Linked DNA regions of Homo sapiens. The protein of the gene in region 1 purifies or fractionates together with the protein of each later gene. This does not show direct contact. Each region holds a gene or a part of one and is shown on either strand. Other genes may lie near its edges.

Region 1 (4,835 bases):
CTCTGTGGGTGTGGGCTTGGACGCCTCTCCCCTCCACCTGCACACCCCTTGCAGCACACATGAGGCTTAGCTATTAAAGAGGCTGGAGGACAGTGCAGCGCTTTAACCCTGGCCCTCACAGGGAGGTGTCTAGGTCTTTCTTCTCCCCTCCAGATGGAAGCATTTGGGTAGAGGACCTAGAAGAGGCTAACACTCCCTGAACTATGAACCTAGATTGGTTTCTAAATCTGCTGAGAGAAAAATTGAACTTGAAGTGACATTCCTTCTAAAGTAGACATCATCCTACATGGCTCTTCTACAGCTGTCTTTCACCCTAACCCATGGTGTGCCCTGGGCTGTCGCAGGCCCCCAGCCCCTGCCCAGCCTTTCTGAAGTGCCAGGCTTGGGGCTCAATGAATGAGCCTTGTTCTAAAGCAGAAAACAGTTCTGTTCCAGTCAGGGTTCAGCTGCCTGCGTCTTGATGAGATCTCTGTTCAGGATTGTGTCCCCTGCTTCTCTCTCCCTTCTCCTTTTCAAGATCACAGGTGAAGACAAGGGGGTGGAAAGTTCTACCTAGATTGCTGCTATCTTAAGAATGTGGACTTTGGAGCCAGATTGTCTGGGTTTAGTCCCTGCGTCTGCTGCTTACTAGGTGTGTGACTTTGGGCAAATACCTTGACCTCTCTGTGCGTCCGTTTTCTTGGCTGTGAAATGATGTATCATCTCAGAGCACCCATCCCCTGGGGTTGTGTGGGGAGTAAGTAAGCCGGTCTAGTATGGCGCCTGGTACATCCTCAGTCAATAATATCAATGTTGGCTGTGGTGAGGACGTAGCAGAGGATGGTAGAAAGAATCTGAGGCTTGGGGTCCAGAGCCCTGGGTTCAGGTCCCAGCTCTGCCACTTGCTGGTGTAGTGATGCGGATTCTGCACCCCGGAATGTGGCAGTGTTTGCATGCAGGCTGGCTGTGAAGACCCAGGGCAGCAGGCCGGCAGGCTGGTTCCCCTGCACACCGGACTAACTCTGTCCTCTCTCTCCACAGGCACACATTCTGGCAGTTCCGCCATGAGAACCCCCAGACCCGGGTTGGGGGCCCGCCCCCCGAGGGGCTGCCGGGCTTCAACAGCGGGGTGATGTTGCTGAACCTGGAGGCCATGCGCCAGTCCCCGCTCTACAGCCGCCTGCTGGAGCCGGCGCAGGTGCAGCAGCTGGCCGACAAGTACCACTTCCGCGGCCACCTCGGGGACCAGGACTTCTTCACCATGATCGGCATGGAGCACCCCAAGCTCTTCCATGTGCTGGACTGTACCTGGAACCGGCAGCTGTGCACCTGGTGGAGGGACCATGGCTACAGTGACGTCTTCGAGGCCTATTTCAGGTGTGAGGGCCACGTCAAGATCTACCACGGGAACTGCAACACTCCCATCCCGGAGGACTAGGCGCTCCCCGTGCCTTGCCCCCGGGGCCTCCAGATCTGGGGGAAGGACAGGGTTCCTTGGGACAGACCCAAGGGCAGTGTCTGACCCGCTAGAGAGACACCGCAGGGAAGTCCTGTGATTAAGGTGCTGAGACCTCCTGCCGGGCAGGTCACTGTGCTGAGGCCACCCGCCAAGGACTGGCCTGTGCACTGCTGGTGCTTGGGACCTTATTCCTCCAGGGAGCAGGCGACACAAAGGACACGCATGTCCAGTGGGCTGGGAAGCAAGCACTTGAAGAGAAGGAAGGGGAGAAAGGGTCCCCCTTGCTGTCTGCCTCTGAGGAATGGAAATCCTTTAGACCCGGCCTTTTTTGGACCAATATAAATTTAATTTAAATTGACAGCCTTCCATTTTTCGAGAAAGTACAAACAGAACTGCTTTAGCACCCATCGAGCCCCAAACGGGTAAGGTAAGCCAAGGTTTTAATGACCAGCCCAGTATCTAAGCTTCCAAACGAATGCCAGCCCATCACATACTCACCCTGGGAGGCTGCTGCACGCGCATTCTCCTGATGCTCACGTCACTTGGTGTAGGTTTCAGGATCGCCTCTTTGAGGAAGGACTTCAGGACCAACTGGGGCCTGCATAAGAAAACTTATCTCATTATTAGAGTACTCACAGCTTGTATCTCCCAGCTACATCCTAGAACCCCATTGTCCTTTATTCCACCAAACCAGCTCCAGGTGACCAGACTCTACTCAGAAAGCAAATTCGTCATCAAAGAACAGAGACTGGCCACCACAAGGACATGCAGGAGAACTGTCGGGACCAGGAAGACTCATTCCAAAAAGCCCAGGCCGGGCACAGTCGTCAAGCCTGTAATCCCAACACTTTGGGAGACCGAGGTGGGGGTATCGATTGAGCCTCGGAGGTCGAGATCAGCCTGGGAAACACAGGGAGGCCCCCATCGCTACAAAATATTTTAAAAATTAGCCAGGTGTGGTGGCTTGTGCTTGTTGTCCCGGCTACTTGGGAGGCTGAAGTGGGAGGGTGGCTTGAGTCCAGGAGTTCACTGCACTGAGCTGTGATCACACCACTGCACTCCAGCCTGGACGACAGAGTGAGACGTCCATCTCAAAAAAAAAAAAAAAACCAAAAAGGAACCCAGCAATTCCCAAGTGTGACCATGTGGGCTTGGAAGACATGTCACTCATGGGCTAGTAAGCATTCTAGTTTCTTTGTTTAAAAAATCCCCTTATCATACCACGTTAGACCGTAGACCTTAGCAGAAATTAAAGCGTCATTTCTTTTGATGGGGCCTCCTGTACGTAGGCTGCAGACGTGAAAGCCCCAGGGGTCCATTTGTATCAATTTTCATCTTGTTTTGTTTTGATTTCATTTACGTTTTTCTTTTTCCCATGAGTGAGGATAGCCAATAAATCATCTTTGAGAACATGGTGATTCATGTTGTTTGTTCTCTGATCACAGTTTCAGCTGCATGAAGGCTCTGAATCAAGTGTGTACTCAATGCCATTGGAATCCCCACCTCCCCTGATGAAGATGAGTGCTTACAGGAGATCCTAAGGACCAAGGAGAGGGCACATCTGAGAGGGTGTCAGAGAGGGTAGTATTGGCATGTTTGGTTCAAAGCAAGGAATCATTTCATTCTAGGTATTGGCAGGTCCACCTGCACTGGGGAGCAAAAGCATCCCCATTTCTTCTCATCCCTCTTACCCTAGACTGCCCAGTTACATCCTGCCCTGAAGAGGTGGAGCAGATATCTTTCCCAGCCCTCTGCTGTGACAGAATTGGTCTGTTCTCTCACCTACTTGATTTCCTATTTATAGGTAACAATTCTTGAATGCCTGCTGTGCACCAGCCATTGTATTGGGGGATTTATTACGCTATTGATAATGTTTATGAAAACTTCATGAAGGTCATTATGTCTAAAGTCGACTGTAAGAAAATGTGAGAGATGTGGACAGAGTCATATACTATATGTTTATCACATTTTTTATAGTAGAAGAAAATTGGAAGCAACTTAAAATGTGAAAAAGAGGGGCCAGGCGCGGTGGCTCACACATGTAATCCCAGCACTTTCAGAGGCTGAGGCCGGCAGATCTCTTGAGCCCAGGAGTTCAAGACCAGCCTGGGCAACATGGCAAGGCCCAGTGTCTACAACTATACAAAAATTAGCTGGGCATGGTGGTGCACGCCCAGCTATTCAGGAGGCTGAGCTGGGAGGATCACTCAAACCCAGGAGGCAGAGGCTGCAGTGAGCTGAGATCACGACACTACACTCCAGCCTGGGGGACCGGGCAAGACTCTGTCTGTCTTTAAAAAAAAAAAAAAAAAAAAAAAAAAAAGAATGGAATAGGTAGATGAATAATATGCTTCATCCATATAACAGAATACTTGAGGCATTATTCGAAGAATATGTAATGCCTCAGGAAATACTTAGAATGTGCTATTAAATAAAGAATGCAAAATGTAAGATCATATGTTTAATACGATCCTATTTTTAAAATTACATATATGTGTATGTATATCAGTGTACACACGTGTGTATAGATACATACCTACACACACACGTATGTATAAAAAGAGCATCTATTCTGCTGTATTTCAACTTCTAAAAACATAGGTGTTTCAAACACCACATTAAAAAAACAATTATTTCAACGGGAAAAAAGTGAGTTAAAGGCTAAAGAATTTTAGACTCACAATAATAAAGGTATTTTCCCTGCAATCCTTTCTATAATTAAAATGTGTCTATAGCTATGTGTGTATTTTGTTGTTGCAAGAAAAAAACAATAAGCTGGTTGGTCAAAATGGGCAAAGGCCAAACAACATCCCTCATTTACTTTTAAGTAAACCTCTCAGGAGCTTCCCCTCTGTCACCAGTGGCCTCGACCTTCCAACCCCCCAGTGCACAGCAGACTGTCACTGCACAGGCACCCCAGCCCACCCACAGATCACACCCCAGCCCGCTGACAGATCACACCCCAGCCCGCTGACAGGTCCCACCGCAGCCCACCAACAGATCCCACCCCGGCCCGCGGACAGATCACACCCCAGCCCGACAGATCACACTGCAGCCCACCAACAGATCACACCCTGGCCCATAGACAGATCACACCCCAGCCTGCTGACAGATCACCACATAGGCACCCCAGCCCGCCGACGGATCACCACACAGGCAGCCAGCCCACCGACAGATCACTCCACAGCCTGCCGACAGATCACACCCCGGCCCACCGACAGATGACTTCACAGGCACCCCAGCCCGCCCACAGATCACCGCACAGGCACCCCAGCCCGCCCACAGATCACACCCCAGCCCCCCGACAGATCACCGCACAGGCACCCCAGCCTGCCCACAGATCACACCCCAGCCCGCCGACAGATCACACCCCAGCCTGCGGACAGATCACTGCACA
Region 2 (4,823 bases), on another chromosome or scaffold:
TACTATGAATACTTTAGAAAACAGAAACAGAGTATCAACATAAGAAATGAAAAGAGATTACAGGTATCAGAAATCTTGCAAAATTTGCTAGAGGGAATTAAAACAATCCTTAGAGGGAATTTTGTTATTATTATTATTATTATTATTATTATTATTATTATTATCATCACTATTTTTAATAGAGCTTTGCTCTGTCACCCAGGCTGGAGTGCAGTGGTATCATCACAGCTCACTGAAACCCCAAATCCCCAGGCTCAAGGAATCCTCCCACCTCAGCATCCCAAGTGGCTAGGATCACAGGCATGAGCCACCACATCCAGCTAACTTTTAAAATTTTTTTTGTAGTGACAGCATCTCACTATGTTACCCAATCTGGACTTGAACTCCTGGCCACAAGTGATCCTCCCACCTCAGCCTTTCAAAGTGCTGGGATTATAGACATGAGCCACCAAGCATGGCTGTAAAGTAATTACTGAGTGCTTATATTTAGAAAGTAGACCCCGGATGGGTGTGGCGGCTCACATCCATAATCCCAGCACTTTCGGAGGCCAAGGTGGGTAGACTGCTTGAATCCAGGAGTTTGAGACAAGCCTGGGCAACATGGCGAAACCCCGTCTCTCCAAAAAATACAAAAATTAGCCAGACATGGTGGCTAATGCCTGTAGTCTCAGCTACTTGGGAGGCTGAGGCAGGAGGACTGTTTGAGCTTAGAATGTGGAGGTTGCAGTGAGCCAAGATTGCATCAGTGCACTCCAGCCTGGGTGACAGAGCAAGACCTTGTCTCAAAAAAAAAAAAAAAAAAAGTAGAAAGGTCTAAAATTAATTATCTAAATTTCCACCTTAAAAAGGTAAAGGGTAAATTAAACCCAAAGTAAGGTGAAGGTAGGAAATAATAAAGATGAGACAGAAATCAATGAAATAGAAAACAAAAAAAAGAGAAAAATCGATAAAACAAAAAGATGGTTCTTTAAAAAGAGCAAAATAACTCAAGCCAGGTGATAAAATAAAAAACAGAGAAAAAAGAATTACAAATATCAAGGATGAAGAAGGACACATCACTATGGATGACACAAACAGTAAGGAGATGACAGACTAGAGGCAGGGGTAAGGATTAACTGCAAATGGGCTCAAGAGAATTTGCGGGATGATAGAAATTTGGAGGGGGGCCTAACATTGGACTGTAGTGATGGGCCTATAAACTTACTAGAAATTATTTAATCACACACTTACAAAGGGTGAATTGTGTGGTATATACCTTTGTAGAGCTGTAAGAAAAAGGATAAGGAGTCAGCATGAACAACTCCAGGCACGTGAATGTGACAACTTAGATGAAATGGACATAGTCCTTCAAAGATACAAACTACCAAAGCTTACTCAAGAAGAACTAGATAATCTGAATGGCAATATGTCTATTAAAGAAACTAAATTTGTAGTTTAACACTTTTTCCACAAAGAAAACTGCAGGTGCAAACATTTACAGGCAAAATCTTACCAAATTTACACAAATTGTTTCATGAAATAGAAGCGGGAACTCTCCAACACATCCTATGTGACCATCACCATCCTAATACCAAACCCAGACCAAGGCAATATCAGAAAACTATAGGCGATTATTCCTTATGAACACAGATACAAATAATTTTAACAAAATTTTAGCACATGCAATCCAAACAATACATCACAATCAGTGGGGTTTATTCCAGGAATGCAATGGTCAGCTTAACTTTTAAAAAGTCAATCACTGTAATTTACCGTATTAACACACTGAAGAAGAAAAGCCTTATGATCAACACAACAGATGCAAAAAAAAATTTATAAATTCAAATCCACTCGATCAAAACTCTATGCAGGCTGACTTCAGCAAAAACTACAGAAAAAGGACCTTTGAAAATCCTATCCTCCATAAAATCAACAAGAATATTGGCAAAAATTGTCAGAATAAACTTTTTCAGAATTCTAGAAATTAAAGACTTGCAGCAATATAGGGATCATTTATTCAAGAAAAATGTATGAATCTCAGTAAGAACAGCAATTGTCGTGGGGGTTTAGTTTACCCTATCCCTCTTCCCCAGCTCTGTGGTAGACTTGAAAATCAATAGCCCCCATCACAGTGAAAACCAGCAGCATGGCAGCCACTAGAGGGGGAAAGCCCCATTTCTGGAAAATGTCACTATTTGACCTGTCTTGTGGTTCCTTGGAAGACCCTACTTGTAAAACTGTCTTTAATTGACCTGACTCAGAGCTTGCACAGTGGGAACAGTATTTTCCCGGAGGGCATTTGTCCAAACAATCAGAAGTACTTATTTACCATCACAGCTACTTGAGATGGAAGATAACAGGGTAAACAACAGGCTAACCAAAACACTTAAAAGGCAAAAATGGAGAACAAGATACCCATAGAGAGCTCTGAAAAGTTGTGACATGTTCCTGAGACTCTAGGAGGCCACGCACATGTGCAGGGCTGTATACCGGCTAAGGAAAGACCTTAAGTGCTCATGTCTAGCTAACCTTCAGTCTCTGTGGAAGCAGGACAAACTGTGGCTGAATGTTGAAGACATGTCCTGACACACACAGAGTCCCTCAGCAAAGACTAGGAGACTTACTGGTTCCAGGAATTTAAGGAAACCTTTGTCTAATTGTTAGACTACTAAGCTAACCAAGCAGAGACCTCGCTGGTTGCACATGACAAAGAATACAATGCAGAATTAGTTTATTAAAGTCACTAAGCAAACAACAACAACAATAAACCCTGGCAAAAGGGAGAAATCTGATTTCCAGAGTTGCCCCATTATATTACTTAAAATGTCCAGTTTTCAAAAAAATATACAAGACATGCAACGAAAAGAAAGTATGACCTATACACACAGGAAAAAAGTAGTCAGTACAAACTGTCCCTGAGGAAGTCCAGATGTTGGACTTACTAATTAAATCATCTATTTAAAGTATGTTCAAAAAACGAAAGGAAACTATGCATAAAGAACTGAAGGAGTCCAGGTGCAGTCGTTCATGCCTAGAATTCCACTGCTTTGGAGGCCAAGGCAAGAAAATCATTTGAACCCAGCAGTTCAAGACCACCCTTGGCAACACTGCAAGACTCTGTCTCTTCAAAAAATTTAAAAATTAGCTGGGCATAGTGGTGTGTGCCTGTAGTCCCAGCTACTGGGGAGGCTGAGGCAGGAGGATCACTTGAGCCCAGGAGCTGCAGGCTGCAGTGAGCTACGATCTCACCACTGCACTCCAGCCTGGAGACTCCGTCTCTAAGAGAAAGAAAGAAAAAAAGAACTAAAGGAAAGTATGAGAACGATGTTTCAGTACATAGAGAATATCAATGAAGAGATAGAAAGTATAGAAAAGGGCCGGGCATGATGGCTCATGCCTGTAATCCCAATACTATGAGCGACAGAGGCAGGCAGATTGCTTGAGCCAAGTTCGAGACCAGCCTGAGCAACATGGCGAAACCTGATTTCTACAAAAGAATAGAAACAATTAGCCAGGTGCAGTGGTGCACACCTGTAGTCCCAGCTATTTGGGAGGCTGAGGTGGGAGGACAGCTTGAGCCCAGGAGGCAGAGGTTGTAGTGAGCCCAGATTGCACCACTGCACTCCAGCCTGGGTGACAGAGTGAGACTCATTCTCCAAAAAGAAAGAAGTTCTGGATTAAAATGAAAATGATTTGAGTTGGAAGACGGAGCAATCAGCAAACCTAAAAACAGGTCGGCTGGGCACGGTGGCTCACACCTGTAATCCCAGCACTTTGGGAGGCCAAGGCAGGTGGATCACGAGGTCAGAAGATCGAGACCATCCTGGCCAACATGGTGAAACCCCGTCTCTACTAAAAATACAAAAATTAGCTGGACGTGGTGGCGCGTGCCTGTAATCCCAACTACTCGGGAAGCTGGAGCAGGAGAATCGCTTGAACCCGGGAGTCAGAGGTTGCAGTGGGCAGAAATTGCGCCACTGAACTCCAGCCTGGTGACAGAGCAAGACTCTGTCTCAAAAAAAAAAAAAAAAAAAAAAAAAACAAAGACAGGTCAATTGACATTGTCCAGCCTGAGGAACAGAAAGAAAATGGAACAGTCTCAAAGACCTGTGGGGTTCCATCAACTACACCAACATATACGCAATGGGAGCCTCCGAAAGAGAAGAGAGAGATAAGAGAGTAGACTTTTTTGAGAGAACAATAGCCAAAAACTTCCCAAATTTGATGTATACACATCCAAGAAACTCAATAAACTTCCAAGAGGATAAACTCAAACAGATCTACACACATCATAATAAAACCACCGAAAGACCAAGACAAAGAGAAAATCAAGCAAAAAAAAAAAAAAAAAAAAAAAAAAAAAGACTCATCACTTACATAGAACCCTAATAACATTAACGTCTGAATTCTCATTAGAATAATGGAGGCAAAAAGACAGTGCGATAATACGCTTTAAAATGCTCAAAGGAAAAAAAATGCCAATCAAGAATCCTATATTCAGCGGGTAGACATGTCGAGAACAGACCAGTGTGCTAAGGCGGGTGAGGAGCACTGAGTTAACCCCCAGCGTACTGGCGTGGGGACTGTGTGCGCTCACTGGACCCGCTACTGAACAGGTCACAGACGCTGGCCCCCTCAAAAGGCGCCAGAAAAGGACCCTTCTGGACCAGCCTGGATACACTGCCTGAGCTGCTCCTCTAGGGCGAGGGGTGACTCCCCTGTGCCAGGGGCAGCGGAGGAAATGGGAAAGTGGGATGCATAAGACTAGGTGGGTCCTCCCATAGGACATGGGTGACTGAAGAGTCACAGTGCAAGAAGACGTAAGAAGTTCAGACCCAGGCCGG
Region 3 (4,823 bases), about 73 Mb from region 1:
TACCTCCAAACCATGTGAAGCCACATGGATAGGATACAGACTGTTTGCAAAACTGCAAAATAAGCATCATGGATAAGGTCTCAAAGAAGTGCTCTGAATGGGTTAAATAATGAGCTGAATTTGTGGTGTTCTTTACTTATTAGAAATAGTGGGAATCGTCTAATACAAGTGCATAAGCTTCCATTTAGATCTAAGTGGAAAACTGTAAAATGGTTAAGTTAGAAATACTGGCTCTAGAGTTTAATAAAAGTTTTACAACCTTTACTTGCTATTCATTCTCACTCCTAGATGATAAAGTGTAGTAGTCAGTTAAAGATGAATTAGATCAATAAAGCATTAACGACACGCTACTAAATCCATAAAGTCTACATGAAGCATATGATAAGTGGAAGGAGACACGTCTTCATTCTCACTAACTGTTCACACACAATCCAATAGGATAAAATGCTAAGTTCAGTTCAATCCAACAAAACTTTATTCAGTAGCCATTATTTGCCAGGTGGTATACTAGTTTTGGGTAAAGCAAAGATGGAAAAAAAAATGGCCCCTGCCCTTGAAGAGCTTATATTTAAACTTTGAAGAGCTTATAATATAGTAAAAAAGACAAACATATAAACAGATCATTTTAATACAATGTTAAAAGTATACAAGGATGTTATGGAAGCACAAAAAAATCATTTAACCCAACTTTTGGGGACCAATACCAAATTCCTGAAAAAGATAATATGCTAGTCGAGGCCTGAAAGATGAGTAACAATCATCCAGACTAAAGGAAAGGAGCAGGATTCTAAGCAGGGTACAGCACGAGCATAAACCACTCACTCACAACATAGTTTCTACCTTTAAACCTTTATACTGATCTCTGTTACCTCATCCCACAAATTTATTACCAGAATGTCCTTTCTTTCTTCATTTTACCTATTTTAAAAATCATCTTATTAAGGTCCTGTTCAAGCCATACTTCCTATAGGATACGATGACCATTCCAAAATGATTATGAGTTATAAAGAAATCCTGCAGCATGTATAGTCCATATTGCAAAATGTTATACTTATGTAAACACTGATACTATGCTCTAATTGTTTAATGTGTATTATCTTTGATAGTTACCAGCTCTATTATCTAAATCTTTATTATCACGGAATCAGAGAATTCTACATGTTATACATAATTAGTGATAAAAGTAGAGGCACTTGTGGGATAAGAAGACAGAGAATTATGGTTTTCTTTTATACATACCATTCTCAGCTTTCAGCTCCTCCAGCTCTATAGAACTAAGGAGCAAGGCTCCCTTTTCATTCTCTAGTTCTACCACTCTCTTCTGCAAAGAAGCAATATTCTCCTCAGTGACTGCCTAAATTGTAGAAAGACAACAAATTAATGATTCTCCAGCAGAAAATTCTCACACTAACGCCCAGATAGCCTCCAGCATTTTTGTCTTCTAGAAGTTCTCCAGCCATGAAAATACTTTAAAAATAACATCTACTTATCTGCCTAGGTAATCTTTGAAGAAAAGTGTTTTATCTAAAGATTTAGAAAAAGAAATAAAATATTTCACACAAATATCAAGTTCATTGGCTTTTAAATTTAAGATTGAAGCCTGGATTACAAAGATAGAAATCCCAAGTCTATAGCATAAGAAAGAACATTTTCAGGTTCACAAACAAATAGTATTACAAGATTAGATTAATGTCACCAAGTAACATGGTCTCTCTCCTGAAGGAGAATGAACATGAAGAGAGGTTCCACAAAGAGGAATAGAGGCAAAGGAATATGTACCTCTTAAGAAAGGAAGAAGATTTATAAAATTGTTTTTTGTTTTCCAAGTATAATAAAAATTCCCTTGGCTTAATTTATACATCCAGAATTTTTGGTTTTCCTAAGGATAGGCATATATCTAATTATGTCACATCTTTAGTTTTATGTCTTTGTATATATTTTTTATTCTCCATGGATATTATTCTATAAAATTTTCATACAATTGTAGAATTTTTAAGCCATGAGGGTCTTTACAGCATATTTGACCCCGAAATCTTCATTCAATGTTTAAAATAAATAGCATGGGATGAATTTAGGGTTTTTATGGCTTTTATCTTGAGGGAAGTTCCCAGTTTGCAGTATGCAGGGCAAGTAAAATTCCAATAGAATAGCCACAGATATTTCTGGCTTGAAGAATGAGAAGAGTTTGGGACAAACATAGCTGCCAGGATGTGAGGAGGGAGATCAGAGAGAAGAAAAAGAGTTAGGAAGGAGGAGCCCTGAATTCTGTGTATAAACTTAGCTGAAATTTCTGACTGAACAATGGCACAATGTATTTGTTGGACTGACTTAAAGCAGCCCAGCTAAGGCAAAAATAACTGAACTGAGTTTTGATGCCTCTCTATCATAGGCCAGAGTTTGGGGTTTGAGTCCAACTTACTGTCTGATAAAAAGTAATTGAAATTTTAGAAATAACAAAATAAAATCTTGAGAACAAAACACGACATCCAGAATTCAAAACAAAACCATTCACACATAAAGAAATAGGAAAGAGTGACCCATTCTCAAGGAAAAAAAATATAATCAACAGATTCTAGCCATAAAATGATGCAGATTTTGTAAGTAGCAAACAAGAATTTTAATAAAGAAGCTATTATATCTATGCTTAGGACATAAATGAATATGCTCATAATGAATGAGAAGAAAGGAAATCTTAGTAAAACAAACAAAAAAAAATAATGAACCAGTTTGAAATTCCAGAACTAATAAACATAATATCTGAAATGAAAATTTCAATGTGATAGGCTTGACAGTAGAATATAGACGACAGAAGAAAGTCTTGGTGAATTGAGGATGATAAATCAACTGAAATTATCCAATCTGAAGACAGAAGAATAAAAAAAATTGAAAAAAAAAATGAATACAACCTCAGGGACATGTGGGACAATATTAAAAGGTTCAATATACGTGTAATTGGAGTACCAGAAGAGACGAGGGACAGAATGGGAAGAAAAAATATTTTAAGAAATGGCCAAAAATTTCTCAAACATAACGTTATATACGTAAGAAACTCAACAAAAGCAAGCAAGAAAATGACAAAGAAAACTATAACTAAGTACTTCATAGACAAGGATAAAAGGAAAGTCTTAAAATTTCCATGGAAAAATGATACTTTACATACAGAGAAACAATAATTCGAATGACTACTGACCAATTGTTAGGGAAAAAATATAGGCCAGAAGAGGGAAACACCTTCTTTAAAGTACTGAAAGAAAGGCTGGACACAGTGGCTCACGCCTATAATCCCAGCAGTTTGGGAGGGCGAGGCAGGTGGATCATCTGAGGTTGGGAGTTCAAGACCAGCTTGACCAACATGGAGAAACTCCGTCTCTACTAAAATACAAAATTAGCCAGGCGTGGTGACTCACGCCTGTAATCCCAGCTACTCAGGAGGCTGAGGCAGGAGAATTGCTTGAACCCAGGAGGCACAGGTTGCGGTGAGCCAAGACTGTGCTATTGCACTCCAGCCTGGGTGACAAGAGTGAAACTCCATCTCAAAAAAAAAAAAAAAAAAAGTTCTGAAAGAAAAATTGTCAATCGAGAATTATAATATCCAGTAGCAAATATCATTCAAGAATAAAAGTAAAATAAAGACATTTTTAGATAAGAAAAAAACTAAGAAAATTTTTTCACAGACAGACCTATACTATAATATTATAGGTTGTTGTAGAGGCTGAAGAAAACAGTATCAAATAGATATCTGATCATCAGAGAGGAAAGGGCATTACAAATGGTAAATATGTGGATAAATGTTAAGGTCAATATTTTCCTCTTAATGTCTTTCAAATATATATAACCATTTTAAGCACAAATATTAAAATTGTGTGCTGAGGCTTATTACTTTTGTTAATATAATACATACAACAACTGTGGCATCAGGAATAGGGTGAGGGTATATGATTATGAAGATTCTACCTTTTAAGTGAAGTAGTACAGTATTAACTCAAGAAGACTGAAAAATTATGGATATATGTTATACTTCCTAGAATAACCACTTAAAAAATTTTTGTAAAAAGATACAGCTCAATACCCAATAGATGACTTTTGCTTCTGCTAAAGACTGAGTAACATGGAACAGATTTAACCTCCTACCTGAAACAATAACAACCAAAACCAGACAAAATAATAAATAATCATTTTCAGAATACTGGATATCAAGCAACAAAGGATAATTATCTCTGAGAGAGGCAGAAAACAAAGTGATCCCTAAAACTGACCAAGCTTCATGCCTTAAGAGAGTTTTCAGGCTGTGGTCCAAGAAGGGGGAACATAGGCTGAGCCTGGTAGACTCCCTAAGTTCATGAGACAGAGCTGACAGTCAAGAAAGAGCAAGATGGCTGCAGTTCGCAGAATAGAATACCAGATGGGAAAAAGTCACGTAAAGAGAAAACCCTGCAGATCTGCAAAGGGACTGAACAAGTGTTCAGTGAAGTACAGGGCAGGACATGAATGTGAGGAAAGCATCCAAGGCTATCTGAACTACCCCTACCTATCTGAAGAGATTAAAGAATAGCACTTGGTGCTCACACAAAACCCGGAAGTGTCAGTTATATAGCCAAATGTGAAAAAACACTTCTCAGGGCATTGAGTAGAATACTCAGCAAGGTCTTGCCTCAGGAGTATCGAATGACTGAGCACTGATTCGAACCCTCCTAACAAATCAAAGCAGCAGGATCTGAAAGGACCAAGTTTTTTTCAAAGAATTTAACTGAGTCGCATAAAAAAAGCTCCAAAATATGTTAACAAAACAAATATAGAAACAAAGGAGAATCACTTGAACCCCG

What was found.
Region 2: the proteins of XXYLT1 (region 1) and CLYBL purify together in Homo sapiens (affinity purification with mass spectrometry; one large-scale study listed by BioGRID and IntAct). This does not show direct contact.
Region 3: the proteins of XXYLT1 (region 1) and GOLGB1 purify together in Homo sapiens (co-immunoprecipitation; one large-scale study listed by IntAct). This does not show direct contact.

What each region holds. Positions count from the first base shown.
Region 1 is NC_000003.12:195,066,297-195,071,131, reverse strand, and holds the end of XXYLT1 (xyloside xylosyltransferase 1), read left to right. Parts: intron 1-1,020; coding exon 1,021-1,417; 3' UTR 1,418-2,848; downstream 2,849-4,835. UniProt on the Homo sapiens protein: Alpha-1,3-xylosyltransferase, which elongates the O-linked xylose-glucose disaccharide attached to EGF-like repeats in the extracellular domain of target proteins by catalyzing the addition of the second xylose.
Region 2 is NC_000013.11:99,608,367-99,613,189, reverse strand, and holds part of CLYBL (citramalyl-CoA lyase, mitochondrial isoform 1 precursor), read right to left. Parts: intron 1-4,823. UniProt on the Homo sapiens protein: Mitochondrial citramalyl-CoA lyase indirectly involved in the vitamin B12 metabolism. Converts citramalyl-CoA into acetyl-CoA and pyruvate in the C5-dicarboxylate catabolism pathway.
Region 3 is NC_000003.12:121,701,242-121,706,064, forward strand, and holds part of GOLGB1 (golgin subfamily B member 1), read right to left. Parts: intron 1,355-4,823; coding exon 1,240-1,354; intron 1-1,239. UniProt on the Homo sapiens protein: May participate in forming intercisternal cross-bridges of the Golgi complex.